Linked DNA regions of Homo sapiens. The protein of the gene in region 1 purifies or fractionates together with the protein of each later gene. This does not show direct contact. Each region holds a gene or a part of one and is shown on either strand. Other genes may lie near its edges. The genes, in order: IGSF6, AP3S1 and GNPTAB.

Region 1 (10,372 bases):
ACTGACATTGCTGGAGAAAAAGGATCATGTAACACCTCCATCAGTAACCAAGTAGTGGGAAGCAATTAATGAAAACATCTTGCTTCATTAATACTGTAAATAACATACGCAGTATAGCCTATTAATACTATACTCAGAACCAAGTGAAAACAAAGCTTTGCTCAGGAAGACTTGAAACATCTACACTTTATTTTCCAACTCAACTTTTTTCTGTTAAAAGCCAACCATGTAAAAACTGATGACAGGTCACACTGGATGGCAGAAAATACAGTACTGCTTTTAACTACTCTGTACAAGGGATAAATGACTAAGGGCACTGTACCTCCTTTCCTCCCCTTCTCTGAGATCAGTGGTCTGAGCACTTTAGGAGCTTAAAATGCAGGTGCAGGGAGCTAGGAATCAGAGGTGTGGCTTGCATTTCAACCTTTAAGGTCAATTGGTTAGCTTGCTTTTACCACAAATAAAGCTCTTCTTAATTTCTCTAGTACAGTCTTAACTTGATATGAAGCACTTACACGAGGAATGGTGCAGACAAGGCAGCTTTATTGTACTTTGGGGGAGAAAAACATGATTCCATTTACGGGGAAAAAAGCCATTGACACTCAGTAAGCAACACTGCCATCTAGTGGAATGGTGACACACCACCAAGAATTTCAAGACCCGATAGGAAATGTGAGTGGATTTGGTTTCAATTTTCACCACAAAACAGCACTTTTAATAAGCTGGTTTTCAGAGAACTTCAGATTTTTTTGAGAAACTACTTTTTATCTTTAAAATGCATAAATGTATGTGTTTTCTCTGTTTTGGGGGGGTGGTTAAGAATGAGTTGTATTTTTCTTATTAGAGCATAAAGTTCTCTACTTGAAAGTTAGAAAACACTTTGGGGCAACCTGCCTCCTTGAACATCCATCACTTCTGCTTGACAGTCTAACAGCAACCCCTGATTTTAACAGACAGTTTATAAAGAAGCAAAACTCAACTGTACAAGAACGACATTAAGTTTTCTCATTTCCTCTTTCTATTTTTACAATCTATGGTGCTAAGTATTTGTACTTCACTTACTTGAATTCCTGGAAAAAAATCATTAGAACACACCAATAACAATTTTGCATAAATCACATAACCCAACTCTTATTATGACTGCACAGTAACAGTGGAAGATATTGGTGTGAGGATGTGGGAATGCAGTTCTTAATGAATAATAAAGTAATTCTTCAGGTTTTAATTCGCCTTTATACCCAGGTGTTGGAGTGAATGTGTTGATCTGATGACTTCTATGAGCATATAAATGAGAATACTTAATGAAACACCTGGATGAAAAAAGAAATAAAGTAGTGAGGATAACATATTGTTAATAACCACAATCTCATATTGACATTTCTGTTATTACTGAGATTTCAGATTCTGGGTTAAATGCTCTGCTCTTTGGAATATCCACGATGGTTATTGATCTTGCTAATGGGTTCCTCTATGGCAGCATTTCTGGGTTTATGGTTGGAGGCACTCACGGATTCCAGAATGCATGAGTCTGACACGGTCTTCATCAAACCATATTCTTGGCAAATAATAAACTCCTTTAAGGATTTCAGGGAAGAGCCAAGCTCTGGGAGAGAGGTATATAAGTGTAGAGTAAGAAGTTGAATTAAAACATTTTTAGTTGCATTTTGTCAGTAGACAAAACTGAATGTTTCAATTCTGAGAACCTGAGATTGTCCAGAAAAAAACAAAGTTCAGTGTATGGGACATGAGTGATCACAAAGTCAGAACCAGGTTATTTTGCATTTTTCACAGCAGCATTAACTGGGGGGGTGGGGGGAGGGGTCCCTGAAGTTCTGTATCTGAATGAGGCTGGGTTTTTGTTTCTGTTTTTTTTTTTTACTGACTCAGTGTTCACTGCAATTTGCAATAATCTCCCCTTCCCCCAAGTCTGAAGCCTTCCTTCCCCCCTATTCAAATTGTCTGCGTCATTCTCATAATGCTACTATTTGGGTACTCCTGAAGCCAAACCAATAAAAAATGCTAGGGGAGCTTTATATGAATTCAAACATGATGCCAAAGTCATCTCCAAAAAAGTTTATTAGCATGATTAAAAACATTTTCTTGAATAATAACAGAAAGAATTTCTAAACATGAAAGAATATCAGTGGCTATACCTTAAAACCAGTATTTGGAATTGAATGGACAGCTTTATTGCCAGTCTTCAAAAAACAATCCATTGATTGGTTCCATGAAGTCGTGACTATTGCTTTGTCTGGGAATGAGTCCCTACTGCAATTAAGTATAAAAAATATCTTCCATCATAATTGGAGTGTGACCTGCATTGGAGAGTGGCTCTGAGTAAAGAGTTGATAAAAATCCACAAAGAGTTGGGTTTTTGTCTTTTAAAAACATTCCTTTACACACTACAAAGAAATAATTAGTATTTTGGCTTTTTAAATTCCTACATGATATTTAGAATGGCGGTCCCCAAGGGTCCTCCCTTCACGTAATTGTGAACACAGACCCTCTTCCAAGGGCACATCCCGGAGGGTGCGGACTCTGAAGACTTCGACCTCCACGTGTTTATACTGGTTTGAGAACAAAGACAGCGTCATCCAGAACGTAGTAGTCATTATACATGTCGCCTTCACACAGGTATGGTAGTCTGGTGAAAGCTTCGATAACAAAACCAGCTTTTCTGAAAACTTCAGGCAGACTATTCACTTGTTCTTCCCAGTTCTGTCCTTTGATTTCCAAAATTTCTGATGGTTTCTCCCACTTGCCACCTACTAATACAAATAAGAACATTCAGTTAAATTCTTGAACAAACAAGTGATTTAAAGAGGGAAGCAGGGAGGAGCCATATCTACCAAGGACTTGGTACGTTCCAAGCCTGAGGGCTTCATGAGTTACCTCTTTTGTACTTCCCAGGTACTCTTTGAGACAGGTGGGCAGATAAAGAACAGACTCAGAAGGGGTGAAGAACTTGCCCACGCTTGCAAGGTTAATGAGTGTCAGTATGGAAATGTAAGCCCAGGTTTGTCTGGATCCAAGGCCCCACACTGTTATCTTCTCTGACAGTTTTGGGTAGTATCTGCCAATAGACTGACTGCAGGGTGTAATGGTTAATGGGTTTGGAAAACTGGTCATTAAATGCTGGAATACTGAAACAGAGAGCAACATGTAATATCTGAAGGACAGTTTTGGACAAATGCAAGAAAATACCACTGGCATAGTAAACTTATGCAACTTACTACCTAGAGAGATTTATTAGGCTGAAAATAAAAACAGGCTCATGAAGGATTTTAATTTAGAAAAGCAGATCATTGGGGAGTTTTTCTAGGGAAGTTGACTCATTCTTTGCCTTTTCAGAACAATTTCATAAACATTAAGCTCCAGGACCAGAGAGAGATGGAACAGTAGGATGGATACACCGTCCAGCATTTCTTGGACTAGAGATGAAGCCTCTATCAGTCATTTCCAAACCTATGAGCAGGAGATGCCTGGGGGACAAGGGGACTAGGGAAGGTCCTCAAATTCACATACAAACCTGGCACTGACTACAGACACACACACAGAGATGACAGTATATTTAACTTTGGGGGTACTTTTTAGGTGCTATGGTGATACAAAAACTACATACATCTGTTGAAGTGTTAAAACCAGATTGAGGCCGGGCGTGGTGGCACATGCCTGTAATCCCAGCACTTTGGGAGGCCGAGGTGGGCGGATCACGAGGTCAGGAGATCAAGACCATCCTGACTAACACAGTGAAACCCCGTCTCTACTAAAAAAAATACAAAAAAATTAGCTGGGCATGGCAACATGCACCTGTAGTCCCAGCTACTTGGGAGGCTGAGGCAGGAGAATGGTGTGAACCCGGGAGGCGGAGCTTGCAGCGAGCCAAGATCGTGCCACTGCACTCCAGCCTGGGCGACAGAGCGAGACTCTGTCTCAAAAAAAAAAAAAAAAAAAAAAACAAAACAGACTGAGAATAACTTTCTGTTAATGAGAAAATATATCATGAGCAGATGCCAAGGGCACAGACATCATATCATGGTGGGGAGATTTTTCATAATTTTCAGTGGTGCAGATGACGCTCTTCCCATGTCTGGGGAATTGCCTGCCCAGAGTCTGGGAGAGACACAAGGCCTGGGAGCCGCTTTCCTGGCCTGCCGTGCAGCTGAGGCACTGGCACGCAGCCTAAGCCAGGCACACTTGCCCATGCCCTGGAATGGAGAGCCAGTGACCCAGAGTAGTGGGGATGTGAGCTTCTCCTTCTCTGGGGGTGGAGCAATGGCAGTGAGACCAAGGGGCTGGGGCAGTGGTTGAGCGATGCTGACAACAGGGCTGATGGCACCTAGTGTTTGGCAGTGGCAGTAGCATCCTCTTCAGACCTGTTTATGGTGTGATTTGAGGCATTCTTCCTGGCTGTGGACCCCACACAAGATTCACTAGCCCTCCCAGTGACTCTAGGATCTACCTTCAAATGTTTGCATAAATTTCCTTTTAAGTCAGCCTGAGTCTGTTTCTGCTGCTTTACAAAGAAGACCCTTACTGAATCACCACTAAGTGCTGGGGGAGAGGACACAGAGGACAGAGGGCCCACATATTTGTTTCTCAACACATTAAAAGGGGGTCTTTGGGCCAGGCATGGTGGCTCACACCTGTAATCCTAACACTTTGGGAGGCCAAGGCAGGGGGATCGCTTGAGGGCAGGACTAGCCTAGACAACACAGAATCTACAAAAAAAAAAAAAAATTAGCCAGGGGTGGTGGTGCATGCCTGTAGTCCCAGCTACTCAGGAAGCTGAGGCTGCAATGACCTGCAATCTTGCCACTGCATTCCAGCCTGGGTGATAGAGACCCTGTCAAAAAAGGGGGGAAGGCAGGTGTCTTTGGATTCAAAACTGGAGTACAAAAAGTTAATAACAGACAATTTATTTATTCGCTGCATTAGAATGTGTTGTTTACTAACTTTTCTCATCTCTACACAAAGCCACTTCTCCTTCTGCTGTTCTTTGTTCCCAGCAGTTACTGGCCCAGAGTGGCACCCAGAGCAGGTACCCTAGACAGTGACTGAACTGTTCTGAAAAATCCAAGTACGAATTATTTGTCAAACAATACTCCTTCCTGGAAATATGTGCTAGGTGTAAATCAAAATCTCACCCAGAAACATCTAACACCTATGACAACTGTAAAATCCATGGAAAAAAAAAAGATATGCACATTTCTAAATGTGCTCCAGGCCAAAATCTCAATGTTAAATGGTGAAGCCATCCTTGCACAATTTCAAAAAGTTCCTGATTATGGTTCCTTCATAAGAGGTTCCTCTCTTCAGCTCTTCTTCCCTTCTGAAAAAAGAAAGCCAACTTTCCTTTCAAATACACACCCCAACCCGCCCCGGCATACACAGAAATGGGGACTGCGAGCAGAAGCAACATCGCTCGCCATCTGCAAACCAATCTCATTCTATTTTGTGTCGGTAAGGTTCTTTTTCTTCTCCTCCTTCATTTTATTTAAATCAACTGCTATTTTTCACCTAATGCATTTATATTTTAAGCTCCTTCAGATTAATTTTTAAATGTATAACATTATGAAAACTGCCTAAGAGGATAAGTTTCCTTTTTCCCCTGAGAAATAGACAATAAAAAAATAGCTGAGAAAAAGTTTCATATTAACCTTGAAAAGTCTCTTTGCTATTATGCTAATTGGAGACAATCTGACCAAAGGGTTGAAAATATTCTTAAAATCGTAGGTATAAGTTATCAATAATTTAATTATCATACAAACTTGATCTGCACATAGAAAGCAATAAATGATTATTTGCTGAATATTTTCAAAGAACAATTTCTATAAAAGTACTTTTCATTTAAGAAAAAAAAAACTGCCATGACTCCAATAGCCATCCCATAGTATATCTATTTTTAAAATTCTGTCTACTTCTGTTTTTTTATCTATGAAAGAGAAAGGATTTCCAATACATCTAGTAATCTCAGATTTGCCCACACAATTTGGATTATAGGGCAGGGAAGGGGGGAAAGTTCTTAATTTTTTCTCATCTGTGAAGAAATATATCAAAATGTTAATGGGAGTTATTTCAGGCAAAAGGACTATGGGTGACTTTTTGCTTCTACTTTTAATAACCTGTTTTTTGCTAATAAGTATATATTACTTTCATAGACTATTTTAATTAGCATTATTTTAAAGAAGAATTCCTGTCTTTTAGAGATATATTCTGAAAGATGCAGATAAAATGGCTGGGATTTGCTCTAAAATAATATGGGAGTGAGGGAGTAGGTGGGAGGAGAAAAGAAACAAGATTGGGTCGAAGCCATGTGATGGCAGGGGGTTGACTGTACTACTTCGCTACTTTGATATGTTAGAAATTTGAAATCTAATATAATAAAGCTTTGGGCTGGGCGTGGTGGTTCATGCCTGTAATCCCAGCACTTTGGGGGCCAAGGTGAGAGGATCACTTGAGCTCAGGAGTTCAAGACCAGCATGAACAACATAATGAGACCCCCATTTCTACACAAGAAAAAAAAATAGCTGGGCGTGATGGCACCTGCACTGCACCTGCAGTCCCACCCACCTGGGAGGCTGAGGCAGGAGGATCACTTGAGCCCAGGACTTTCAGGCTATAGGGAGCTGTGATTGTGCCACTGCACTCCAGCCTGGGCAACAGAGCAAGACATTTACTTACTTCTTACTTACTAGATAGAGAGACAGCTTTGTTTAAATGTCAAGAATTAGTTCTCTTCCTACTTTCAATATGGCTTTTTTGTTTGTTTGAGACGGAGTCTCGCTCTGTCACCCAGGCTGGAGTGCAGTGGCAAGATCTCGGCTCACTGCAAGCTCCGCCTCCCGGGTTCACGCCATTCTCCTGCCTCAGCCTCCCGAGTAGCTGGGACTACAGGCATCTGCCACCACACCCGGCTAATTTTTTGTATTTTTAGTAGAGACAGCGTTTCACCGTGTTAGCCAGGATGGTCTCGATCTCCTGACCTCGTGATCCGCCCGCCTCGGCCTCCCATAATGCTGGGATTACAGGCATGAGCCACCATGCCCAGCCTCAATATGGTTTTTTAAAATAATAAGAATAATCTTTCTATTCCCTCCATGGAGGAAATAAATCTTCAACCTTTTCATTGGATACTGTGTTTAAAAAACAATTCCTAGAATATGAGGATTCTTAAAAGAAATCATTCACAGAAGCAGGCTGTGGTGTGACATATCCAAACTTCTCTTTTTTGTTAATAGGTTGCCTAACTGGTTGGGGGAGGGAACCACAGTTTCATCACAAGTTCCTGCTCACAGAGGAAATCATTACAATTGGTTTTCTCCCACACATAGCCTAATTGGGAAGAAGGTGGAAATAAGTAGAGATATGAAATTCCAAAGTTACAAATACCTGTTTTTATCCTATACTACTAGTTTTTAAAGAAAAGTGTTGAAAGTCAGCTATCCCCGCCACCCCAACCTCTATTTTTTTTTTTTTTTTTTTTGAGACAAGAGTCTCACTCTGTCACCCAGGCTAGAGTGCAGTGGCACAATCTCAGCTCACTGCAACCTCCACCTCCTACGTTCAAGCGATTCTCCTGCTTCAGCCTCCCAAGTAGCTGGGATTACAGGCGTCCACCACCACACCTGGCTAATTTTTTGTATTTTTAGTAAAGATGGGGTTTTACCATGTTGGCCAGGCTAGTCTCGAACGCCTGACCTCAGGTGATCTGCCCGCCTCGGCATCCCAAAGTGCTGGGATTACAGGCGTGAGCCACCATGCCCAGCCTCTATTCCTTTTATAGAGACAGGATCTCACAATGCTGCCCAGGCTGGAGTGCACGTCCAGACTCTATTCCTTTAATAGAGACAGGGACTCACAATGCTGCCCAGGCTGGAGTGCAGTGGTGCCATCACAGCTCACTGCAGCCTGGAATTCCTGGGCTCAATCAGCCTCCGGTCTCAGCCTCCTGAGTAGCTGTGACTAATGGCCACACCACCACGCCTGGCTCTTTGGCTTCCCTTTTAAAAACACTACCCAATTTGGAAGGCTGAGGCGAGTGGATTGCTTGAGCCCAGGAGTTTAAGACCAGGCTGGCCAACATCGCAAAACCCTGTCTCTACTAAAAATAAAAAAATTAGCCAGGCGTGGTGGTGCACACCTATAGTCTCAGCTACTCCAGAGGCTGCAGTGAGAGGATTGCTTGAGCCCAGAAGACAAAGGCTACAGTAAGTTAGCCAAGATCACACCACTGCATTCCAGTTTGGGCGACACAGTGGGACCCTATCTCAAAAATAAAAATGTGTAAATAATGGAATCGTCCACTTTTTAAAAATAATTTTACAAATAAAAATAAAAACATTATCTGAAAGATGACTTGAGACTGAGACAGTGCTTAACTTTGCTAAGTTTTGGCAGACCCAATTCCATTTTAAATTTCCACTCAGTATATACTATAAAATGTTTCACTGTACTTGTAAGGTGCTTGAGTCTGGGCAGGAGACATGAGGTTGTATTTCTCAGACTTGAGAGGGAATCCAATCCCCTTGGCTGGAGATGGAGCTGAGCTGGGCCTCCCACAGACACGAAGCTCAGAGAAGCTTGCAGGCCTCCTCCAGGTGACTGCACCCTCTTGTCTGGTTTGCATTTATCAGGTCACCACAGAGCTCCCAGCTCATCTCATGTTGCACAAATACTAAAATATAACATGATGAGAAGAGAGCAAGGCGCAGTGGCTCACACCTGTAATCCCAGCACTTTGGAAGGCCGAGGCAAGCGGGTCGCTTGAGTTTAGGGGTGCAAGATCAGCCTAGGTAACAAGGTGAAACCCTGTCTCTACAAAAAATACAAAAATTAGCTGGGCACAGTGCTGCAGGCCTACAGTCCCAGCTACTTTTGAGAAGCTAAGGCAGGATGATGGCTTGAACCTGGGAGGTCACAGTTGCAGTGTGCCGTGATTGCACCATTGCACTCCAGCCTGGGAGACAGAGACTCTGTCCAAAAACAATAACAAAAATGAAAACAAAAACAAAAAAACATGGTGAGAAGAGACTCGCATCACAAACGCCATGATTCTAACTTTAATTCCTCTGCTGTTATGAATGGGGATCCATAAGAGAAACGCTAAGAGAAAAAAGCCCCTGTCTGAAAATTAAGCATCAGACCACTTGGATGACTTTTCAGTTTCATTTACAGTAGCAAAGGACAAACTCACACAAATAGGACCATTTGGGAATATATGACCAGGCGGAACTCAGACCAAAAACTTGACAAATTCCAATTTGTCTCAACCAATACTATTTTACCTATGGCCTCCCCTGCCGCAAAAGAAGGGTTTAGGGCGGGTCTTTCCATTTGTGCACTCGAGTGGCTTTCCAGCTTCACATGCCTGGGATATAAAGGCCAAGGTGGGGGACTCAATCCTCATAACTTGGAAGAGCACCACATGGTGGACAGTACACTGGAGTGGGTGACTAATCCCAGCTCTGTGAACACCTTGTGGCTAGACGTCCACAACCATCTCTCCAACAGCCATCTGACACTGTGGGAACAGTAGCAGTGGCGGCTGCAGCAGCAATCGCTCCCTTGTATTTAATACTTACTATAGCTTAGGCAGGTAAACACTTCCTAGGCATCATCTTGAACGTCACACTAACTGCATGAGGTCAACAATACTATCCCCATTTTCTAATGAGGAAACTGAGATACTGAGATTATAATGCTGGGAACAGGCAGAGCTAGGATTTGAACTCAAGTCTGTGCTCTTTATCACAATATTGTTAATTAAATAAGATAAATGCTACAAGGGCCTACAAAGCAGCACACACGCCAGGGAGAAACCAAATCTGCTTAGCTATGGCCTGGCGAGCTCATATGGTCCCTGCTCAGTAATCAAAGACATGGTAGGCTAAGCCAGGGCTGCATTTCCACAGGTGTACATGTTGCCTTTTATCATGTTTCCCAAAGGGACACCAGGCTCACAAAGAAACAATTGTGAATGGCCATGAATTCCTGGCGATCTCAACTCCCACAAAGCACAAACATCGCTGCTGCTCATAGGCTCCATCAGCGGCAGCAACGTTCGTCTGGGGACACAGGTTACCACACTGAACACAGCACTCTGGGGAGGCCAGGGTGCGGACAAGAAAGCAGGCAGGAGATTAAGTGATTGGATCGAAGGAAAGCTTGTAAGGAGCAAGAGTCACAGATGGACCCCAAACTTCTGAGTCCAATACGGTGCCACCTCTATGCAGGCCTCCTGCACAGGGACTCTGTTCCCCTGAAGCCTCTCTAGGGCTGGCCTCCAGTGAACAGACATCATGTGACCCAGCAGGTCAAGGTCAGAAAACAGGAGGAGTTGGGGCAAGTGAGGACCACTGGTGTTTATTTT
Region 2 (10,030 bases), on another chromosome or scaffold:
TTTGTATATTTTAAGTATGTTTGAAAGGCTTCTAGCTTTATTCCAGCTAGAATGTCAAAAGCTTTCATATGTTTCATGTCCATGTTACTTCAATTGGTTAAATTTACCAGAGATATTACTCTGCAGAATAATCCAAAATTACTTGAAACAAAGTATAAACTTTTCCTAATCTTCTTACTAAATTTCAGTTAAAATGTATTATATAAGGACAAACTTAATGACTTGTTTGGCTGGGCGCAGTGGCTCACGCCTGTAATCCCAGCACTTTGGGATCACTCAGGTGATCTGCTCACCTGAGGTCAGGAGTTTGAGACCAGCCTGGCAAATATGGTGAAATCCCGTCTCTACTAAAAATACAAAAAAATTATCCAGGCATGGTGGCACTTGCCTGTAATCCTAGTTGCTCTGGAGCCTGACGCGCAAGAATCGCCCGATTCCGGGAGGCGGAGGTTGCAGTGAGCTGATATTGCACCACTGCACTCCAGCCTGCGTGACAGAGTAAGACTCCGTCTCAAAAACAAACACACAAAAAAAGACTTGTTTAAAATCGAGAATGTCATGATTGATGAAAAGAACTGGTTATCAATATTTTTAAAAATTATTTAAGTAATATCTTAGGAACATCATTTATATTTAAAAATCAGTCTGGGTATAATTGAGACACAGCTTTTTAAACATAACATGCATTTATCTAGGGGCCTTTGTCAGAAATCAGAGCTTTTATTATGTTGGTCTAAAGTTAGTACATTTCTGGTAATGGAAAAAAGTGAACCAGTTTAATTCCCAATACCTAGACAGGTGGAAGCAAAGCTCTGCCAGATCCTGAAAGAGAGAAGCAAAGATATACTCTGAATGTATTTCCATCTATTCTATTTTGATAGAAAAATGGTTTACTATAACATTGGAATATTGGGAGAGGAGGGTTTAAGCTGGGAGGTTGATGGGATTCGGGGGAAGTATAAGAGGCACTCAGGAACCTGCCTAAGAATAAAAGGACTCCCTGGGGGTGGAGGTAGAGGGGTGGGGTTGGGGAGATCTGTTAGCTTTTATGTATTTCATGTTATTCTTAAGATGGATAAATGGGTCTGAATTTAGTCACTACTTTTTGAAAGTCAGTCCTCTTTTTTTTCCGAACATCCTGATCTTTCTAGCTCTTTCCATTCTTCTCTCTTACAGACCTTTATCTTTCAGTCTCCCAGACAGGACAGGTAGACAAGGTATTGCTGACTTTGAGAAATATGTACTATAACAAAGGGAAAGCAAAATGATGTCAAAGGCAATTAATTATTTAGGCCAGACTCAAAAATTCTTTGTGTTAATAAACCCATATAGTCCCTGTAGCCTATTTTCCATTCTAGTTTCTCCTTGTAGTTTCTTCATCTTTTATTGGACTTAGTGTATTTTACTAGTATATCATTGATGTCATGTTTGTTCTGTTTTGTCTGCCTGCATTGTAAAAGGAAAGTTTAAATTTTTTTTAAACACTTGTCATCTAACTGACAAATTGCATTTGCAGAAGTGACAATTTACTTTGTATATAAAAACGTAAAATTTATTTTGAGCATCATATAGCAGAACCAATCTTAATTTAACTCTCACAGATTTGTTTTTTTTCCATCTCTAAATTAGGATTCTAACATAAAATTGCCTGCTGGGTTTTGGAAGCTGTGAATTTAAAAACCAAAAGCTGAACCTTCAGAGTTTTGCATACAAAATGGGAAGCAGTGAAGGCTTAGAATAGTGACTGTTAAATAGTACTTTTTCCCCTCAAATGGTTTTCAGTTCCAAAGTCTTAACAGAATTGCTTTTACAGTTTTGACCTGCAGGTGCATATTAACAGTGGCCAACAGAAAATAAGATCAGAAATCTTATAAAACTTGACTGTATTTCAAACTAGAATGCTCGAAAAATGGAATTACCAAATTACCAAATCACCAAAATACAATGGGTTTTCATTGTAGCAAACCTTCTGACATCCAAACATGTCATAATCAGAATCAATAAAAATATATTAATGTTTTAGTATTGAATTAAAAACCCTGAATATTTTTGCAAAGCGTATTGGCAAATATTGGAAATATTTTTAATAGACCTCTAGTTTTACAAAACTAATTTTTCTTCTGATATTTCCTGTACGTTTTTTCACACCATAAATTAACTGTGTGAATTACTTTTTTAAAAGTTCCATGTACGTGGTGATGAGCAACTATTTTGTGTGAAACCATGTAAGCAAAAGAAATGTTTATAAGGTCTCTGATTGAAAATTTCAAAATAAAAGTAATTTATTGAGTCCTATGGAGGAAAAAATGTATAAACTTACGAAGTTAGATTATGCACTTACTAATTAGAAAAACATCACTGAGAATTGATGATTGTGGTGATATCACAAAGCATTGCCTTTTAGCCACTAAATTTTTACTTACTCTCTCGATGTGTTTGAGAAGAAGTAGCAACATACAGGTGGCTTTATAGTATCTTATTTTGAGATTGTGGGCTATGTCACAAAACTGGGGTACCGTTTTTGGTCCCTCTATCCATGTTATTTTGTCCCTCATATAGAGAATACATAGTAGTCTCATTCTCACCATTGGTCAGAATTATTGCCAGTTTCTGTGTTACAGTATGTAATTTATTACTGCTATTTTCCAGCAAAGAACCATTAATCACTTGGGTCTGTTAACTTTATTGCTAGAACTGTTAATTGGCCTTTTTTAAAAAAAATCAAGTTTCTGTTTTCAAAGAGGAGAGAATAAGAAAAGTGGCTCTAAGGTACTGATGGTGGAAGGTCAGCTCATGAGCTGGTTCTGCCTCTCTACCTTGACATACACATTTGTCTTGTACTTCTACAAAATTATGGTGAGAACCCTTGAGGTCACTTGTAATGGTCAAAACTAGTAATGATAAATCCATGAAAGTCATTAGTCTGCTCTCTTTTTTTCATGCAGGCAAATCCTATGTTTGAAATTAAAGCTATAATTGAAGATAATCCGTACAAAATGACTAATAATTTGGAAGGTTTTTTAAATTTTTGAGCACTCTAATTTTGTTAAAACTGTGAAACACCATAGTTATTGCTGTCTAGAGAATTGTCATGAGCTTATCTAAATGTTTATAATTGCAGTATTAAAGCACTGCCATTAAAACAAAGCCTATTATATATCCCCAGATTAAAAGTTATTCTACCTCGTGTTGAGGGATTTTTTAAACTATTGACATTTTCTTTTTTGCTCAAAAACATGCTTTCAAAATCTGCCATTATTTTGTTAATGATTTTGAGTCTGAAACCATTTAATATTGTGTTTATTAATGTTGGTGTTCTTTCACTTTGCTGTTAGGTCAAAATTATGAATGTGCATATAGCAACTTCCAGCAGGAAGGGTGGGTAAAGGTTTTAATACGTACAGTTTGTTCCAACTACCATCTTATTATGCTGTATTCAAACTTGAAAAAAAAAAAGATATTTTAAGATGGTAGGATGGTATTTTATGTCTTAGATGAAATAAATAACAAGATTACTCTATTACTTTCCTTTTCCCTTCAAGAAAGTTGATTGTTTATTGCATGAGGAAAAGGGAGCTTTCAGGGTCTTCGAAATACATTTTAGTAATGCTGCTTTTTCAGTTTTGCTTGCACATATTTTGTTTATTTTTGGGTCTGGCAATTTAAAAACAAAATCAAAAACAAATCATATCCATCCATTACTATCTTTGTGATTCAAGTGCTTGAAATTTCCAAGAGTATGTCTGTATAAGTCTTTATCTGTTTGGCCTCATTTTGGTATACTTGCAGACTTCATTTTGTTTTCTTTCTCTTAATTCTGTTAATTTATTTAATCTCATGGGAGAGAAAACATGATCATTCTTTTATATACTGTACTTCATTCTTTCATCCAGTTCATATTCTTAACTGCTTTGGATTCATATATTTGTTTTTATTGGTGTAGTCGCTGCAGTTTTACCTGCCATGGTGGTGCTCAGGTATAACATAGATGGAAACAAGTTATTTCTCCAGTAGAATTTCATTCTTTTTATTTCTGCTGTGTGTCAACTATATAATCTTAAATCTTTAAGAACTATGTTGTACTGTCAGAAATATCTTACTTTTACGTTTAAAAATGTATTTACAGTAATCCCCCCTTACCTGTGTTGGGTACATTCCAAAACCCCCAGTGGATGCCTGAAACTGTGTATACTACTGAACCTTATATATGCTATGTTTTTTCCTATGCATATATACATATGATAAAATTTAATTTATAAAATAGGCACGGTAAGAGATTAACAACTAATAATAAAAGAGAACAGTTATAACAGTATAATGCAATAAAAGTCATGTGAGGCCAGGTGCACTGGCTCACGCCTATAATACCAACACTTTGAGGGGCCAAGGCAGAAGACTCACTTGAGGCCAGGAGTTTGAGCCAGTCTGGGCAACACAGTGAGACCCCATCTCTACAAATGTATATTTTTTACATTAGCTAGGCGTGGTGGGACACACCTGTAGTTCTAACTATTCAGGAGACAGATGGGAAGATCACTTGAGCCCAGGAGTTCAAGGCTGCAGTGAGCCATGATTGCATCACTCACTCCACTGTGGGTGACAGAGTGAGACCCTGTCTCTTAAAAAAAAAAAAAAAAAAAAAAGTTATGTGATTGAGGCCTTTCTCTATCACAATATTGTACTGCACACACTTATTTTCAGACCACAGTTAACCACGGGTAAATGAAACCATGGAAAGTGAAATTGCGGGTAAGGGGGGACTACTGTACTGCTAACAAGTCAGGTAAACAATTTCTGTAAGTTTTAGCGTTGAAAAGTTAAGTGTTAGTAAAAGTTATTTTGTTGCTTTGAATGTATCTTACTGGAAAAAAAAAAAATCTTAACCAAGATGAAAATTACTTCATACCTCTGTGTCAGCAAACTGATTGCCTAATGGAAAGTTACTTTACATTTTATGTTTTAATAAAAATGTTTCAGGCATCACTTTCATGAATGTCTGAAAATGAAATTTGTTTTATAGCCATTCTGGTGTTGACTGAGTGACATAAAGTCTTTTTTTTTAGCCCTAAATTTTTATATATAAACATTGCTAGCTGGTTTAAACATCTGTTGATCAATTGTCCTTATCATATTTTCTCAACATTTTATATTTTGCATAATATGATTTCTTTTTAAAACGTTAGTTTAATTAAAACTTAAAGCACCTATTACAACTTTAAATTTTCCTACCATTTAAATTCATGGCATACTACACAAAAGTATTGAACATGCTTGAGAAATAATTTGATCCTCCTAATTCATTTGCGTGTTCTGAATAGTTCCTATCTTTTGCATGTCTATGGCTTGCTGCTTATGTTTAGAAGAATTGTAGTTTGTTGTACTTAGAAACTTCTTTTGGTTTTACATATTAAGCACAAATATGCTATTTAAATCAATTGCTATATTGACTTTATGTATTCTTGTTAGCAGCCAACAGTCGACACCATCTTTGGTCACAATGATACAACTCAATCTAATGAAATTTAACAGGATGCATTTTTAAATTTTTTTAATTTATTTTTTGCTTTAGTTTAGCTCTTCATGGTACAGGATATTATGGAAAAGAGAGCTTCATGTACATTTAATACTGAAAACATTATGTTTACTATTTATAAGTGTAAACCATAGTGTCCAATAAAATACACAGATAAACACACACACACACACGCACAATTTCTCTCACAATAATAAAATCCCTTAATAATTCACACCTTTAAAATATTTATACTCAAATATTTTGTCAATACTTTTCTATAGTCAGTTCATTATTTGTCTTCTTTATGGAAATTCCTAAGTAAAAATAGTGGCAAATTGGTCTTTTAACTAGAAAAATTACAAAATCCTCCTATCTAAAAAATGATACTACCTCCAGGACGTCTGCAATTTTGTAAATTTTTCTTCCTTAGTAGACAACATACTTCCTGGTAAAAGAAAGCCAAAAGATGGTAAACCTCTTTGAATTGGATTCTTCTTTGATCCCAACCCACTCTAAATTTTGGTAGCTAGACCTTTAACTTGAAACGATCAAATTAAAGACCCTTTCAAATATTATACATGCTGCCTTAATTATTATTTAGTTGTATCTCCAACATCTTTGGGGGAGCAGGAAGGAAGGGGGGGTAACAAAAACTTCATTGCTTCAGGTAGGTATAAGTATAGAGGTCAATCACATTTTTAGTTGTACATCAAAAATAACTAACATCCATTAAATTATAAAACTTCTCCAGCCCTATTCACTATTTAATTGGGTATGGAGTTATTCATTTGTATCACTCTTATCATTGCCTGTGTAGAATATACTTATTATTAATACTATTCTACTAATTTTTCTATTATTTCCAATTCTGAATTGATAATCCATGGCTTTTATTTCATTGCTTAACAATGTTTGTATCCTTTATTTAGCAAATAGTTTACACTGGCCTATTTTGTATCAGTCAAGATTTTTCTCAGGTAACAGCTTTATTATTATTTTTATTTTAATTAACAAAGGTAGGATTACATAAGAAAAGAAAACTAAAATTATGAAAAGGGACCTTAAAGCTAGTGTTTCTAATTTTATGGACATTGCCATATATAATCTAATCAAAGTGGAAGATTCGTTTTTGTTGTCTATTTTTGTACAAAATGATGCCACTGAACTCAGATGTCTTTGTTGACTTTGCTTTATTATATAGCCTGAATAAAAAGTAATGAAATGTAATTGGTATATAAATTAAACCTCAAATATGAAGGCTGTTAACGTAGGTGAGAAAAATGATATGTATGCATTTTCTTTTATTTGTAAGCATATTTTCTTTTAAAATTATTTCACAAATTACAAATGTTCCTACTAATAGGAAAGCCAAATATTATGCACTAGTGGTACTTACTGGAAATTTTAGAATTCATTTATTTATATTTACTACCTCTTGCATTTATGCTTTTCTTTCTCTAAATTTGTAAACTGTAAGCTGAATATATGTTGCTGAATCTATGCTATATGACAAAACATTTTTAATCGTTATATTTTTACTAATGCATCAAAGGGTTGGAATGATCCTCTTCGTGTAGTTTCATCTTTAGGCAGAACTATATTCTTTGGATTGAGGCTTTACTTGAAAGCCTATTTTTTTAATGTTCTAGAACTTTATTAGAAAAGTTTAAAAGAGCCCTCACAATTTAAAAAACTAATTTTATTGTTTTAAAATGTTTTAAGGGTTTATCCCTAAGAAATTAAACAAGCACAATCTATTACTTGCAATTTTTATTTCACAGCACATATTGCTAATAAATGCCATTTTAAAAGCAAAAGAAAATCTATCACAATCGTTGCAAGAGATATTTAATAAGGAAACTAATGTAAATCATGCTTCATGCTATCTGTCAGTTAAATCAAGATATAGGTGAAGATTTAGGTTTTATCATGTGAATATTGTGTGGTAGTGCACATTAATTTGTATTTAAATCTTTACATTGTTATCATTGCATGTGTTCACTGTATTTTTTAATGTGTCACTGTTTTCTCTTTATAGATTAGTATTTCAAAGTAACCATTCCATACCAATTCAAACTACCATCTGGTCCCTAAGCTTGTTATATGAAAATCTTTTATCATTGTCTTCCATTGTAAGTGTTTTATGATGAGCTACACCTGAGTTGTACATTTTCTTTTTCTTTTATTTGCTTCTGTATACAGGCTGGCTTAGCAGGAGCTCCAGCCCGTGCTGTATCAGCTGTAAAGAATATGAATCTTCCTGAGATCCCAAGAAATATTAACATTGGTGACATCAGTATAAAAGTGCCAAACCTGCCCTCTTTTAAATAAAAATGTAAAAAGGCCACTCCCAGGTAAAATCCAGGGGGAAGAGTCATCTAAGTTTACCATGCAGTTGTTTACCAAAAATAGAGGAGGAGAGTCTTAACTTTTGCTCTTGGATTTAAGTCAAGGTACTGTATAGAAGTTGTGTAAAATCAGTATGAAAGTTCAATGTTGCTGTTCTTGCTCAGTGATTTTAAAGAAATTGAGTAGTTCCTATGTGATTTTTTTTTTTCTTTTCTAAACTGCATTCCTGTGCCCACCTACGGCATGCCTCTATGTATTGGCTACTACAGTGTTTTAAAAAGTGTTTCAGATATTTCTCTAATTATGTACAACCTAAAATGTTGGTGTTTTGTATGGATCACAAGTGCAGCATTCCTTAATTCCTTCTGCTATATGTCACACAGTTGTTATTTGGAGAACCAAGTATGTATTGCATGAAAACATTATGACTTTTTTCTCTTAGTTTAAATAAACTCCAAGGTAACTGGACTTCTAAAGCACCTTTCTGTTTGCCTGATATCTACTTTAGCAATAATTTTTTTTACAACCCTCTGACTCAACAAAGTAAATAAAAGTATATTTTATCACTATTAAGCAGATGTTAATGTCGATTTATTTTTTACTCATATTTTTAATATTCAGAAACTCAGTAAATTATTCGGAAACTCAATTATTTCACAAATCAAGAGCAGTGTATCTTAGGCATATTGCGCAAGATGAGATCTGGAGTGGGGGGGCGACAGTCTTTCTAAAATGTATATTGAGAAAATGTAAAATCTTTTTTATACAAATAGCTTTAAGCCTTGCCTCTTGTTCCTTCTTGCCCAGATGGTAAAAAATAATTTCAGCCAATACCTAATTGATTTTGAATACAAAAACCCTTGGGACTCTACTTGTCTGTTTCATCCTAAAACAAAGTTAAACTAATGTTTTCTTAAGTCCTAACACTCACATATTCTAGTTTCTTATAATTGGCCCACATTTTATTTGGTCTTCCATGAACTGTGAGTGAGGTTACTTTTCCAGTTAGACTAAGGTTTTCCTTACAGTTCTAGTTCTCCTTCCTCAAATATTCTCTTTGAAATACTTCCATAGACTTGCAGCATGTATGAATTTTACTCCAAGAACCCTAAGATATAAGAAAAGTTACTTTATTTTTTTCTAAATAAAATTAATCTGTCTCTAAGCTCTCCAGCATGTTAGGGTAACAGGAAATTTAATCTGATTATTGGGATTTCCATCAGCTCAGAGATAAGAAAAAGTCCTAGAGAAAGGTTATGCAGAGTAGAGCATTTCAGGAGGTCCCTGGTCTTTAGTCATTTGACAGTGTTTATTAAGTGTTTACTGTGCGCTCCCAAGTCCCTGTCTTTTTTTTTTTTTTTTTTTTTTTTTTTTCCCAGAAGGAGTCTCGCTCTGTCGCCCAGGCTGGAGTGCAGTGCGCGATCTCGGCTCACTGCAACTGTGCCTCCCGGGTTCACACCATTCTCCTGCCTCAGCCTCCCGAGTAGCTGGGACTACAGGCGCCCGCCACCACGCCTGGCTAATTTTTAGTAGAGACGGGGTTTCACCGTGTTAGCCAGGATGGTCTGGATCTCCTGACCTCGTGATCCGCCTGCCTCAGCCTCCCAAAGTGCTGGGATTACAGGCGTGAGCCACCGCACCCGGCCGTCCCTGTCTTTATGGAGCGATATCAGTAACACAGAGTGCCTAGCAGTACCCCCTCCCCTCACCACCACCCCACCCTTTTCCTTTTCTCGTTGTTTTTGGGGAAACAAATTATGGGAAGGTTAAATGTTGGTTTGGTTAGGATATGCCAAAATTAGGGAAACCTCTGGGCCAGAGCATACTTTAACTTCAAGAAACAGTCAAAAGTGTTTTATCTCCCATTATATTCTATCAAATACAATGCCCCAACAACCAACCATCCTTCCTCCCCTTCCATTCTCTCATCTCCCCTCCCTCTCTCTTTTCTTTCCTGCAGAAAATACTTAGCATTAGCTATGTGCCAGGCATTGTTCTGGGTACTAGGATAGAGCAGGGAACAAACTAGATTCTGTTGGAACATAAATTCATGTGGGGTGAAACAATAAATATATGATATGTCAGGAGGTGAGAAGTGCTATGGAGAAAAGTAAACCTGGGTAAAAGATAGGGAATAGTAGGGTTGGGGGTAGGAGCTGGGCTGTT
Region 3 (11,227 bases), on another chromosome or scaffold:
TTAATCAGCTACTGAAAGCTCTTTAATTTTCTTATGACCTCACAGTGAGGCTTTTGAAGCACACTATTTCTATACACAAAATATGTGTAGGCCTGGGACAAGAGGTCCCTGATTGAGCAAGATTGTTTTCTTTGGATGTTCAGTTTTCACCCTGGCTAAGCAAAGGGAGACTCAAAGATGGTAAATGTTTTAGGGTCCAATACATAAAAACATTCTCATTGTCTCCTGAGTTTTGAACCAATTGAGAAGATCATGCAAGATACAGGCAGATGAGGATCAGCTTTAATATTAATGAAATTAACTGCAGAATGTTGTTTTACATCTATGGACAAGGGGATATATAGGCTAATACTTCATCCCTGACTCAGATACACTTTCTAGGCACTGGCTTGGGCCAAGGGACAGGAATTCCCATGCCTGGTCAAGAGTGGCTCAGAACATCTGCAGCAAATAAAAATACAGGACACAGCTGGGCACGGTGGCTCACGTCTGTAATCCCAACACTTTAGGAGGCTGAGGCGGGTGGATCACCTGAGGTCAGGAGTTCAAGACCAGCCTGGCCAACATGGTGAAACCCTGTCTCTACTAAAAATACAAAAAATTAGCTGAGTGTGGTGGTGGGCACCTGTAATACGAGCTACTCAGGAGGCTGAGGCATGAGAATCACTTGAACCCAAAAGGCAGAGGTTACAGTGAGCCAAGATCACGTCATTGCAATCTGGCCTGGGCAGTAAGAGCGAAACTCCATCTCAAAAAAATAAAATAAAATAAAAAATACAGGACACACAGTTATATGTGAATTTCAAGTAAATAAAGCTTTTTAAGTATTGCATGGGATTTGCTTATGCTAAATGTATGTGGCTGCTTATCTGAAATTCACATTTAACTGGGTATTTTATCTGGCAACTCTACTATCACTGGTCTCATTTCAACTCCTCAGGCCCCCTCCAATACATTTTCCACGCCACAGTTATGATAACTCTTGAAATTCATTATCTGATTGTGTCATTTGTTAGACTTTATTAAAATTCTTCATTGTCTTTAGGATAAGGTCTTTCATTCTTGCTATGGCCTTTAAGATCCTGCCAGACTCTCTAGTTCCATTTCATTGCATCTCCAGCCCTTCTTGCCTTAGATTAGGCCTTCCATGTGGCCAGCCTTGCCTGGAACATAGTTCCCTTCCCACCCCACATCTTGAGTCCTCCAGCTCAATCTTTAGTATCACCTCCTCCAGGAAGCCATCCCTGACCTCCCAGGCTAGGTTAGTGCCCCTCACAATACTAATCCAATATATATATGCCCCTCCAGAGTGTAAATCCCACAAAAGCAGGGACCATGTCTTTCTTGGTACCCAAGTATTGGGGTACCTAAGTCATTACGAGATAGACTCAATGTCCAATAAAATGCCCAGCACAAAGCATTCATTCACAAATGCTGAATAAACACTAACCATTACTTAAACTTTTCTCATAGATTGAGCTCACCACTATATGCCATATTAGCCTACTGACTGTACTTGGAGGTACTGTTGCCTTCACTCTATCTCTCTGCTCTTACAGATATCTACATCATTGATGTGAAGATGATTACATTTTTGGAATTCATTTGACTTTTTTAAAAAATATTTTCTACATCATTTTTTTCTCTAGTTACTTCATGTTTGGGAGAAAGGCAGGAAAGGGACCTCTTTATTTATTTATTTATCTGCTATAGACTGAGAACCCAGATGACAGTTTCTCGGAATTATATTTATCAGATTTTGAGAGGGACTGTGGGGTTCTTCTAAAAGCAAAACTCAGGGGTTTCACTGGGTTCCTGGGAATCCTTTTTGATCTTTTGGCTTTTCTGGCTCTTTTAGGTTGCCAGATAAAATATTTCCAGATAAATGGGATGCTACTGCATATTTTTTCCACTGTTCAGATGTGGAGAGTTTAAAATCATTTCCAGGCCAGGTGAGGTGGCTCCCAGCATGTTGGGAGGCCAAAGTGGGAGGATTGCTTGAGCCCAGAAGTTCAACACCAGCCTGGGCAACATAGTGAGACCCTGTCTCTACAAAAAATTTAAAAAAATAATTTCCACAACTTATGCATTTACATACTACTAATGTTCTTGAAGTGCATATTTAATCAGTTAATTCTCCTGCTGAAAACCTCATTGCTTTCAGAACAAGGCTAAATGTTAATTTTCTTAAATTTTTCCAACACTAAAAATGTCGCAGGCACTTGAGCATTTTCATGTGTTATTTTACATAACCCTCCTAACTGTATAAGGTAGCTACTACAGGTATATCATATTGCACCCACATTTATTTTATTTAAGTTCAACCATACTGCCTGAGGAGGGGGAAAAGGGAGTGAACAAGAGCAAGTTCTCTAGAAGAAAGGACTTAGACAATGCTCCTGACCTCCCTTGAGGCTGTCTAGTTGGAGCCTAAAGATAAAGGAAAAATTTAAGGGTAATTCATACTACAACAAAGCATACTTTTTAAGAAGGACAGGTTCTAGGCAAGGCTAGGACTAAAGTGAGGACAGTGAAGCACTTGTCTTGGGTGGAAAATCCGAGGGAACTCCAAAAAACTCACTAATCAAGAGGAATAATATTTTAATGCTATATATATATATTTTTTTTTTTTTTTTTATTAGATGGAGTTTCACTCTTGTTGCCCAGGCTGGAGTGCAATGGCACGATCTCGGCTGACCGCAACCTCTGCCTCCCGGGTTCAAGTGATTCTCCTGCCTCAGCTTCCTGAGTAGCTGGGATTACAGGCATGTGCCACCATGCCCTGCTAATTTTGTATTTTTAGTAGAGATGGGGTTTCTCCATGTTGGTCAGGCTGGTCTCAGACTCCTGACCTCAGGTGATCCACTCGCCTCAGCCTCCCAAAGTGCTGGGATTATAGGCGTGAGCCACCGTGCCCAGCCTAATGCAATATTTTTAAAAAATCAAAATTAATGGTTGGGCGCAGTGGCTCATGCTTGTAATCCTAGCACTTTGGGAGGTCAAGGCAGGTGAATCACTTGAGGTCAGGAGTTCAAGACCAGCCTGACCAAGATGCTGAAACCCCATCTCTACTAAAAATGCAAAAATTAGCCGGGGGTGGTGGCATGTGCCTGTAATCCCAGCTACTCAGGAGGCTGAGTCAGGAGAATTGCTTGAAGCCAGGAGGCGGATGTTGCAGTGAGCTGAGATCACGCCACTGCAACCCAGCCTGGGCAACAGAGCAAGACTCTGTCTCAAAAAAAAAAAAAAAACCCAAAAAACAAAAAAAACAAAAAACATTACTGAAGAATATCCATGAAAAGCAAAACACCCAAACTTTATGTTTTATTTTACGTTTTAAATTTTTTTTTTATTTTAATAGGAACAGGGTCTGTTACCCAGGCTGGTCTCAAACTTCTGGGCTCCCAGACTCCTGGGCTCAAGCTATCCTCCCACATTGACCTCCCAAAGTATTGGGATTACATGCATGAGCCACCACACCCAGCCCCGATATCAAAACTATAAACAAAGACAGAATCTCACTCCAAACTTGCATGACTCATTTCACAGTACCTTCCCCTAATCTTGGCCCTGTTCTACAGCCTAAGTACCTGGTTCAAATCTCAATTCTGTCATTTACTATTTGTGTGATGTTAGATAGTTACTTTTTTTCATCACAGTTTCTTGATCTGTAGAATGGGGATAATAATGGTATCTCCATTATAAGATTATTGTGAGGATTAGATGAGCTGGGCACATGGCAGATGCTACATAAATGTTGGCCATTATCCTGAGAGTCCTGTTGAGTGGCAGATGTTTTTATATCTGTTACCATGCTTTTTTACCCCTTCTGATTAAGTCCTCAGATCTGTTATCATGCTTGAAAAGACCTCAGAACTATATGTGTCTTGTACAACTGCAATAATCTTTTGCCATGTACATATAGCATATATCAATCATCTTTTTTAAAAGAAGGATTAAAAGAAGTGACTGCAAAGTGTAAAAAATCTTGCCTTGGATTGGAGTGAAGCTAACCCCTTTTGCAAGTCTGTTAATTCCACCTGACCATCAAACTGAGGGTGCGAATTTGAGTATTTCCTGAAGCTGGTTCCCAAGATATTTTTAAAAATGCTTTGAATGATGGCAACATTAGATAAGTGTATTGTTTCCCAGGGTGACTAGGAAAAAAATCTTATTGACTAGGGTGCATTGGGATTAAGAAAAAGATCTCCCTTTCGTAAATCAGAGGCACCAAGGAAAGGATCTCGTGGGAAAAACCTGCTGTCAAAGTCGGATTACCTGGCCACCCCTGAGCTGGTTCCCCTCCAGTTCATCGCATGATTTCTATCATAACAACTCTTGTATTTAGTGGTTTACATGTTTATCTCCCCCACTAGACTCTCTGAGAACAGTAGCCAGGTCTAGTTCATTTTTGAATACCTGACACCAAGCACTATGCCACCTAACAGGCACAAATTACATATTTAACGACTAAATGAATGAACGAAATTCGGTTTTGGCAGATTTAACCCAAAGGTTTCCTCTTTCAAACAATATAGTTGGGGGTTGGAGGAAAGGAGCCACATACAGCATCTCCTTTTAGCACTCTGCAGAGAATGCTAAGTGCAGAGAAGGTTTTATGCACAAAAATATTCATGGCATTATAGTACCGTCTATGGCACAGTCTCGACGCAGGGGGCAGTTTTCTCTTGGTCGCCTGCCCAACCGGGTAAGTGGATCCCAGCTCAGCTCCGCCCCTCCCAGCCCAGCCCTCAGGGCCCGCTGCGCAAGCGCAGGTGGGGAGGGCGCGCACCTTCCCTATGCCCCTCCGTCCTCCAGGTGGCGCTGGAGACCCCGCCGCCGCCGCAGCCGCCTCTCGCCCGGCCAGACCCGGGCGGCGCCGGCCGCCTCGCCGGCCGCAGGTCCGCCTCCGCCGCGCCGAGGGCGTGGGCTCCCGGCTCCCGGAAGCGGCGGCCGCGGCGCGGAGCCGAGCGGGCGTCCGTCGCCGGAGCTGCAATGAGCGGCGCCCGGAGGCTGTGACCTGCGCGCGGCGGCCCGACCGGGGCCCCTGAATGGCGGCTCGCTGAGGCGGCGGCGGCGGCGGCGGCGGCTCAGGCTCCTCGGGGCGTGGCGTGGCGGTGAAGGGGTGATGCTGTTCAAGCTCCTGCAGAGACAGACCTATACCTGCCTGTCCCACAGGTATGGGCTCTACGTGTGCTTCTTGGGCGTCGTTGTCACCATCGTCTCCGCCTTCCAGTTCGGAGAGGTGAGTAGCGGCGCCGCAGCCTGGACCGGGCGCCTCGACCCTGCACTGCCCTCGCCGTGCCCCGCGATGCCCCGATACAGTATGTATTTTTTCATTATTAGAGACGGGGTTTTGCCATGTTGCCCAGGCTGGTCTCGAACTCCTGAGCTCAGGCGATCGCCCTGTCTCGGCGTCCCCGAGTGCTGGGATTACAGGCGTGAGCCACCGCTCCCGGCCAAATACAGTATTCTTTATCATAAACGTGTGCAGAGACTATGAGCAAGTCAGAACTGGAAAAAGGCATGTATGTGATTTTAGATATTGCTCCCTCGCCCACCGTTTTTTAAAAATAGAGACGGAGGTCTCCCTATGTTGCCCAGGTTGGTCTGGAAGTCCTGGGCTCAAGTGATCCTCCCTTCTTGGCTTTCTAAAGTGCTGGGGTTACAGGCATGAGCTACCGCACCTGGCCCAAGAAAGCCACTTTTAGCAACGGGGAGGAAAGCTGTATTTTTAAGTGGTTTGAAATCTGTTCCTTAGTTTTAGTTTTTTTCTTTTTCTTTTTTTTTTTTTTTTTTGGTAGGAGGTTACAAAAGGTTTTAAAATTTAACAGAGTAGTTTTTAGAAATGCCACAGTATACATTTGCTTGAAGTCTTTACCCATGCTGGATTGTAAGCTCCGTAAGAGAAGGTGCTGTCTGTAAATACTGTAACCCTGGCCCAAGCACAGTGCCAGGTACTGCCAGAGAATGCAGTGCAAGTGTTTGTTTAATGGCTAAATTATATGGCATGAATTCTGAGCATGTACTTTTTTAGTAGTTCTTGGTTCTAGAGGCTGGGAAAAAATGTCTTACCATAAGGGTGAGAAAGCTCCAGATTTGTAAGTGTGAAATATGTACTTAATATTATAGTACTTGCTCGTCTTTGTTTCATGTGTTGCAACTTAATGTATCTGTGTGTAGTTAGGTGCCTTATTGCTTTTGTGTGATTTTTTTGGCCTTGATTAATTTTGAGTTAACTGTTTATTAAGTCCCATGCAGTGTGAAGATGACTTAAAGGCATCAGGTGTTAGAATTCTTCATTTTATTTTATTTTTTTGAGACAGAGTCTTGCTCTGTTGCCCAGGCTGGAATGCAGTGGCTCCATCTCGGCTCATTGCAACCTCTACCTCTCAGGTTCAAGAAATTCTCCTACCTCAGCCTCCTGAGTAGCTGGGACTACAGGCGCGTACCACCATGCACAGCTAATTTTTGTATTTTTAGTAGAGATGGAGTTTCACTATGTTGGCCAGGCTGGTCTCAAACTTCTGACCTCAAGTGATCTGCCTGCCTTGGCCTCCCAAAGTGTTGGGATTACAGGTGTAAGCCACCGCACCTGGCCCGAATTTTTCATTTTATATCCTTTTCTTTTTGCTTTCATTCCATGCTTGGCTGTTTACCAAAAGAGAGACATTTTGTTGCAGTCCTGAAATGGCCACAGATCATAAGGTTTGGAACAGACAAGAGAAATGAGAGGCAGACAGTGCCAACAGGTGTCATGAGAGGTGAAGGCAGCTGGCCTGTGGTTAACTTGTAAGGCATAATGGAAAAGAGGAGCTGCATGATTAGGCAGATTTGGCCTTGATTGCTGACTCCAGTTGATAATGATCATAATAATAGCTAATACTTATATTGGTCTTAACAGGTATCAGGCACTCTCTTAATTGCTTTACATATGTTAACTGATTTAATCCTCACAACATCACCCCTGTGGGATAGGTGCTATTATTATAACCATTTTATAGGTGATGAAATGGATGCATTTGCATTAGAATCCAGCTAATTTGTGGCAGAGCTGGGCTTCAAACCAAGCCAGGCTGGCTCAGAGCTGTGCTTTTTTTTTTGTTTGTTTTTTGAGATGGAGTCTCACACTGTCACCCAAGCTGGAGTGCAATGGCGCAATCTCGGCTCACTGCAACCTCTGCCTCCTGGGTTCACGTGATTCTCATGTCTCGCCTCCTGGGTTCACGTGATTCTCATGTCTCAGCCTCCCAAGTAGCTGGGATTACAGGTGCGTGCCACCACACCTGGCTAATTTTTTGTATTTTTAGTAGAGATGGGGTTTCACTATGTTGGCCAGACTGGTCTCGAACTCCTGACCTCATGATTCGCTTGCTTTGGTCTCCCATGGGATTACAGGCGTGAGCCACCACGACCAGCCTAAGCTGTGCTCTTGAGCACCCCTTTTTATGGTTTCTCAAACAGCCCAGGCTGTTCCTTGTCTGATCTTGGGAAGGATATTTAACCTCTCTGAGCTTCCTTATCTTTGAAATGGAGGCCAGATTACCTTCCTTGCAGGGTTGATGAGGATTAAATAAGATGGGTATGTAAAGCACCTCACACAGTTCCTACTACATAACAGACCCTCATTAAATGGTCATGGCTACTGCTGCTATTATATTATCAACTCTTTTATGTCCTTAAACCTTATTTTGAAATATATCCTTGAATCAGAATACTTTGATCATATAGTTAATATTACCAACTTGTTAATAATCTCACTAATTGTAATGGATTGTAAGCTCACTAATTGTAAGTCCTTTTGGACTAAGAAGATCATTGTTTTTTTTGTTTTGTTTTGAGATAGAGTCTCACTCTTGCCCACGCTGGAGTGCAGTGGGGTGATCTCAGCTCACTGCAACCTCCACCTTCCAGGTTCAAGTAATTTTCCCTGCCCCACCCTCCGGAGTAGCTGGGATTATAGGCACCCGCCATCACGCTAGACTAAGTTTTTGTATTTTTAGTAGAGACAGGGTTTCACCATGTTGGCCAGGCTGGTCTCAAACTCTGGACCTTAGGTGATCCGCCTGCCTTGGCCTCCCAAAATGCTGGGATTATAGGTGCGAGCCACTGTGCCTGGCCCTCAGAAGATCATTGTTAACTGTAAATTTGTTATCGTCTCCTCCTCTCAATATAACAGGTATTTGATGCTGTATTTTGATAAGCCTTTTCTATATTCATCCAAACTTCGAGAAGTAGAATTGAGGGAAGGAAGTATCAAACAAAACAAGCTGGGTGAGGTGGCTCATGCCTGTAATCCCAGGACTTTGGGAGACTAAGGCTGGAGGATTGCTTGAAGTCAGGAGTTGGACAAGCCTGGGAAACAAAGGAGACCCTGTCTCTACAAAAAAAAATAAAAATAAAGGCTGGGCGTGGTGGCTCACACCTGTAATCCCAGCACTTTGGCAGGCCGAGGCAGGAGAATTGCTTGAGCTCAGGAGTTTGAGACCAGCCTGGGCAACATGGCGAAACCCTATCTCTGCAAAAAAAGTAGAGTAGTCCCAGTTGCTTGGGAGACTGGGGTGGGAGGATCACTTGAGCCCTGGTGGTTGAGGCTGCATGAGCCGTGATTGCACCACTGCACTTAAGCCTGGGTGACAGAGTGAAACCTTGTCTCAAAAATAAATACATAAATAAAAAAAGTTAGCTAGGTGTGGTGGCACATGCCTGTAGTCCCAGCTGCTCAGGAGGCAGGAGGCTGTGGCAGGAGTGTTGCTTGAGCCCAGGAGTTTGAGGTGCAGTGCCTGTGATTGTGCCATGCACTCCAGCCTGGTAGACCTGGTCTCAAAAAAAAAAAAAAAAAAAAAAAAAAAACAACTCCCACAGGGAGAGCCTTCAGAATGGGGACTAGTGGTCACAAAAATGCATTGCCTTGGACTGTAGGTAGCAGGTAATCAGTCTATTGTAAATTAGTTAGCTCCACAAATGGTGTTACTAGATTGACTGCTCTTAAGATCCTTTTTAGCTTAGAAACTTCTGGTTTTTAAATAATTTGTTCTCTGTTAGTTGCTACTGTATAGATTTTAAAACGTGTTTTTGAGTTAAAATTTATTATTTCAGGGCCATCATTATTTAATCGAACCATTTATATACAAGTCCACAATTCTTCACACTCAGGAAAATACAGACTATACCTAGCCTCAAGTCAGTTTAGTCATTTTGCCACCAAATAAGTACAGGGCAGGTCAAGTTTAGTTGCCAAATAAGGTACAAAAAGATCTCTAGGTAGGGCTGGTCTGTTTTGAAAAAAAAAAAAAATTAAAAATCAGAAAAATAAAATTAAAAAAATTAAAAATTAGAAACAAAAAGTTGAAAGCCCCTCCAGTATTCAGAGCATTTTGGATTTCAGGATTACTAATAGAGGGTTGTAGATCAGTGTGTATATGTGTATGTGTATCTGTGTGTGGGGGTATGGTGTATGTATAACGTATCACTTCCTTTGTGCACTAAGTATGGAAACAAATATCCAAGAATTAACTTGCATAAGGAAGCAAAATAGGTTCACATAGAATCTACTCGTAATGAATGGTAATTTTTCCGTGACCTCTCTGCTCCCTTTTGCTTTCCTGCTTTTCTGTTGCCATTTTGAATCAATGAGTTATTTTCTGTGAAAAGGAGAATTGAAAACTGGGTCTAGCTCAAGTTATGTTCAGCCTCAGTGGTGACCAGTGTCTTATACTGGCCTTATTTCAAGAAATTAGTTATCATTTTTGTATTTGATTAGTTCACTCATTAAACAGATATATTTGAGTGTGTTCTTGGCCAAAGGCAACAAACAGATGAGTTAGAAAGAGGCCTGGCCTGAGAGTGGGGACCGTCTGGCCTGCTCCTAGGTGCAGCACAAATTGTGATCCTCAGTGGTTCCCAAACTGAGTTACTCCCAGCTGCCTTGTGGGTTGGGAGTAGCCCCTCTTATCTATTTCGTGTGGACTTGTTTTCTGGGAAAGGTTTCATTGTTTAAAAAATGTTTACAAACTATGAGACTATATTTCTAAGAGCCTCATTTTAGCTTTAATGTTTTGTGAATATACATTTATTGGATACTTCACATGAGAAGCATGACTTGTAATGGATTTTATACTAGAGATGCCAATGGCCACACAGAGCCTTTTTAAAGGGTCTCTTTGTTTTGGGGGGTTTGTGAGAGGTACATAGTCCAGCTAACTATCAAAGTAGGGACCTTGTCTTATTCTCTGCTGTATTCTTAGCCACTAGAAAGTGATTGGTACCCAGTAGATGCTGAATAAATACTTGATGGATGCATGAATGAATGGATTGATTAATTGGGTTGATCTTAACTGACATCCTTTCAAATTTATTTCAAGTAAAGGTAAATTTTTTGCTCTGATGTAGCGTTTATAGTTCCCTTTTATTTCTCAAATGTGATTGATCTGATATAACTTGAACATTTTCATGCTCTGAGAGTCATTCCTGCTCTGGTAACTTTCTCTAAAAATCTGAGACCTGTTGTTAGACTGTACAGTGGAAGATGCTGTCGTCAGAATATACAGTGGAAAATGCTGTCAGAGATACAAATAATTATAGCTCATGCCTTTGGCTATTGTTTAGTTGAGATGAGGCCAAGATGTATGTATGAGGACTGAATAACAACACAGGGGAATAAGCAATTGAATGCCTGAGTTAGTACACAACAATTGCTTAGAAAGTCAGAAGACAGAAGAATGTTGTGGGTTGAAACATCCTCGAGGCAGTTCTGACACCTTTTCAAGGAGGCATGAGCTTTAGGGAGGCTTCATGGACAAGTAGGAGTTTAAACAGAAGAGAGACAAGGAAAGATTATTTTAGGAAGTGGTGGGAGTAATTTTAGCATAAAGTTGGTAATGTCAGAGAAGTTTGTGATCGCTTTTTCTTTTTGAATTACTAGTGGTTTAACATTGCAGCTAGAATTAGTTAACAGCACTAGGTTGCAAGTGACAGACTCCCAACTCAGACCTAGCTTATTAACTAGTTTATTATTAACCAGTTTGTTAACTGGGATAATTGAAAAATATAGGATGAGGCCAGGTGTGGTGGCTCATGTGTGTAATCCCAGCACTTTGGGAGGCCAAGGCGAGTTCGAAAGCAGCCTGGCCAACATGGTGAAACCCTGTCTCTACAAAAAATACAAAAATTAACTGGGCGTGGTGGTGCATGCCTGTAGTCCCAGCTACTTGGTAGGCTGAGGCAG

The links.
Region 2: the proteins of IGSF6 (region 1) and AP3S1 purify together in Homo sapiens (affinity purification with mass spectrometry; 2 studies listed by BioGRID and IntAct, with this or other methods). This does not show direct contact.
Region 3: the proteins of IGSF6 (region 1) and GNPTAB purify together in Homo sapiens (affinity purification with mass spectrometry; 2 studies listed by BioGRID and IntAct, with this or other methods). This does not show direct contact.

What each region holds. Positions count from the first base shown.
Region 1 is NC_000016.10:21,647,623-21,657,994, reverse strand, and holds the start of IGSF6 (immunoglobulin superfamily member 6 precursor), read left to right. Parts: upstream 1-5,386; 5' UTR 5,387-5,396; coding exon 5,397-5,463; intron 5,464-10,372. Other genes in the region: METTL9 (protein-L-histidine N-pros-methyltransferase isoform 1 precursor), read right to left, coding at 2,563-2,768.
Region 2 is NC_000005.10:115,905,645-115,915,674, forward strand, and holds the end of AP3S1 (AP-3 complex subunit sigma-1), read left to right. Parts: intron 1-1,176; coding exon of another isoform or gene 1,177-1,212; exon of another isoform or gene 1,213-1,217; intron 1,218-6,444; coding exon of another isoform or gene 6,445-6,492; exon of another isoform or gene 6,493-7,711; intron 7,712-7,717; coding exon 7,718-7,846; 3' UTR 7,847-8,437; downstream 8,438-10,030. UniProt on the Homo sapiens protein: Part of the AP-3 complex, an adaptor-related complex which is not clathrin-associated. The complex is associated with the Golgi region as well as more peripheral structures.
Region 3 is NC_000012.12:101,824,577-101,835,803, reverse strand, and holds the start of GNPTAB (N-acetylglucosamine-1-phosphotransferase subunits alpha/beta precursor), read left to right. Parts: upstream 1-4,844; 5' UTR 4,845-5,128; coding exon 5,129-5,245; intron 5,246-11,227. UniProt on the Homo sapiens protein: Catalyzes the formation of mannose 6-phosphate (M6P) markers on high mannose type oligosaccharides in the Golgi apparatus.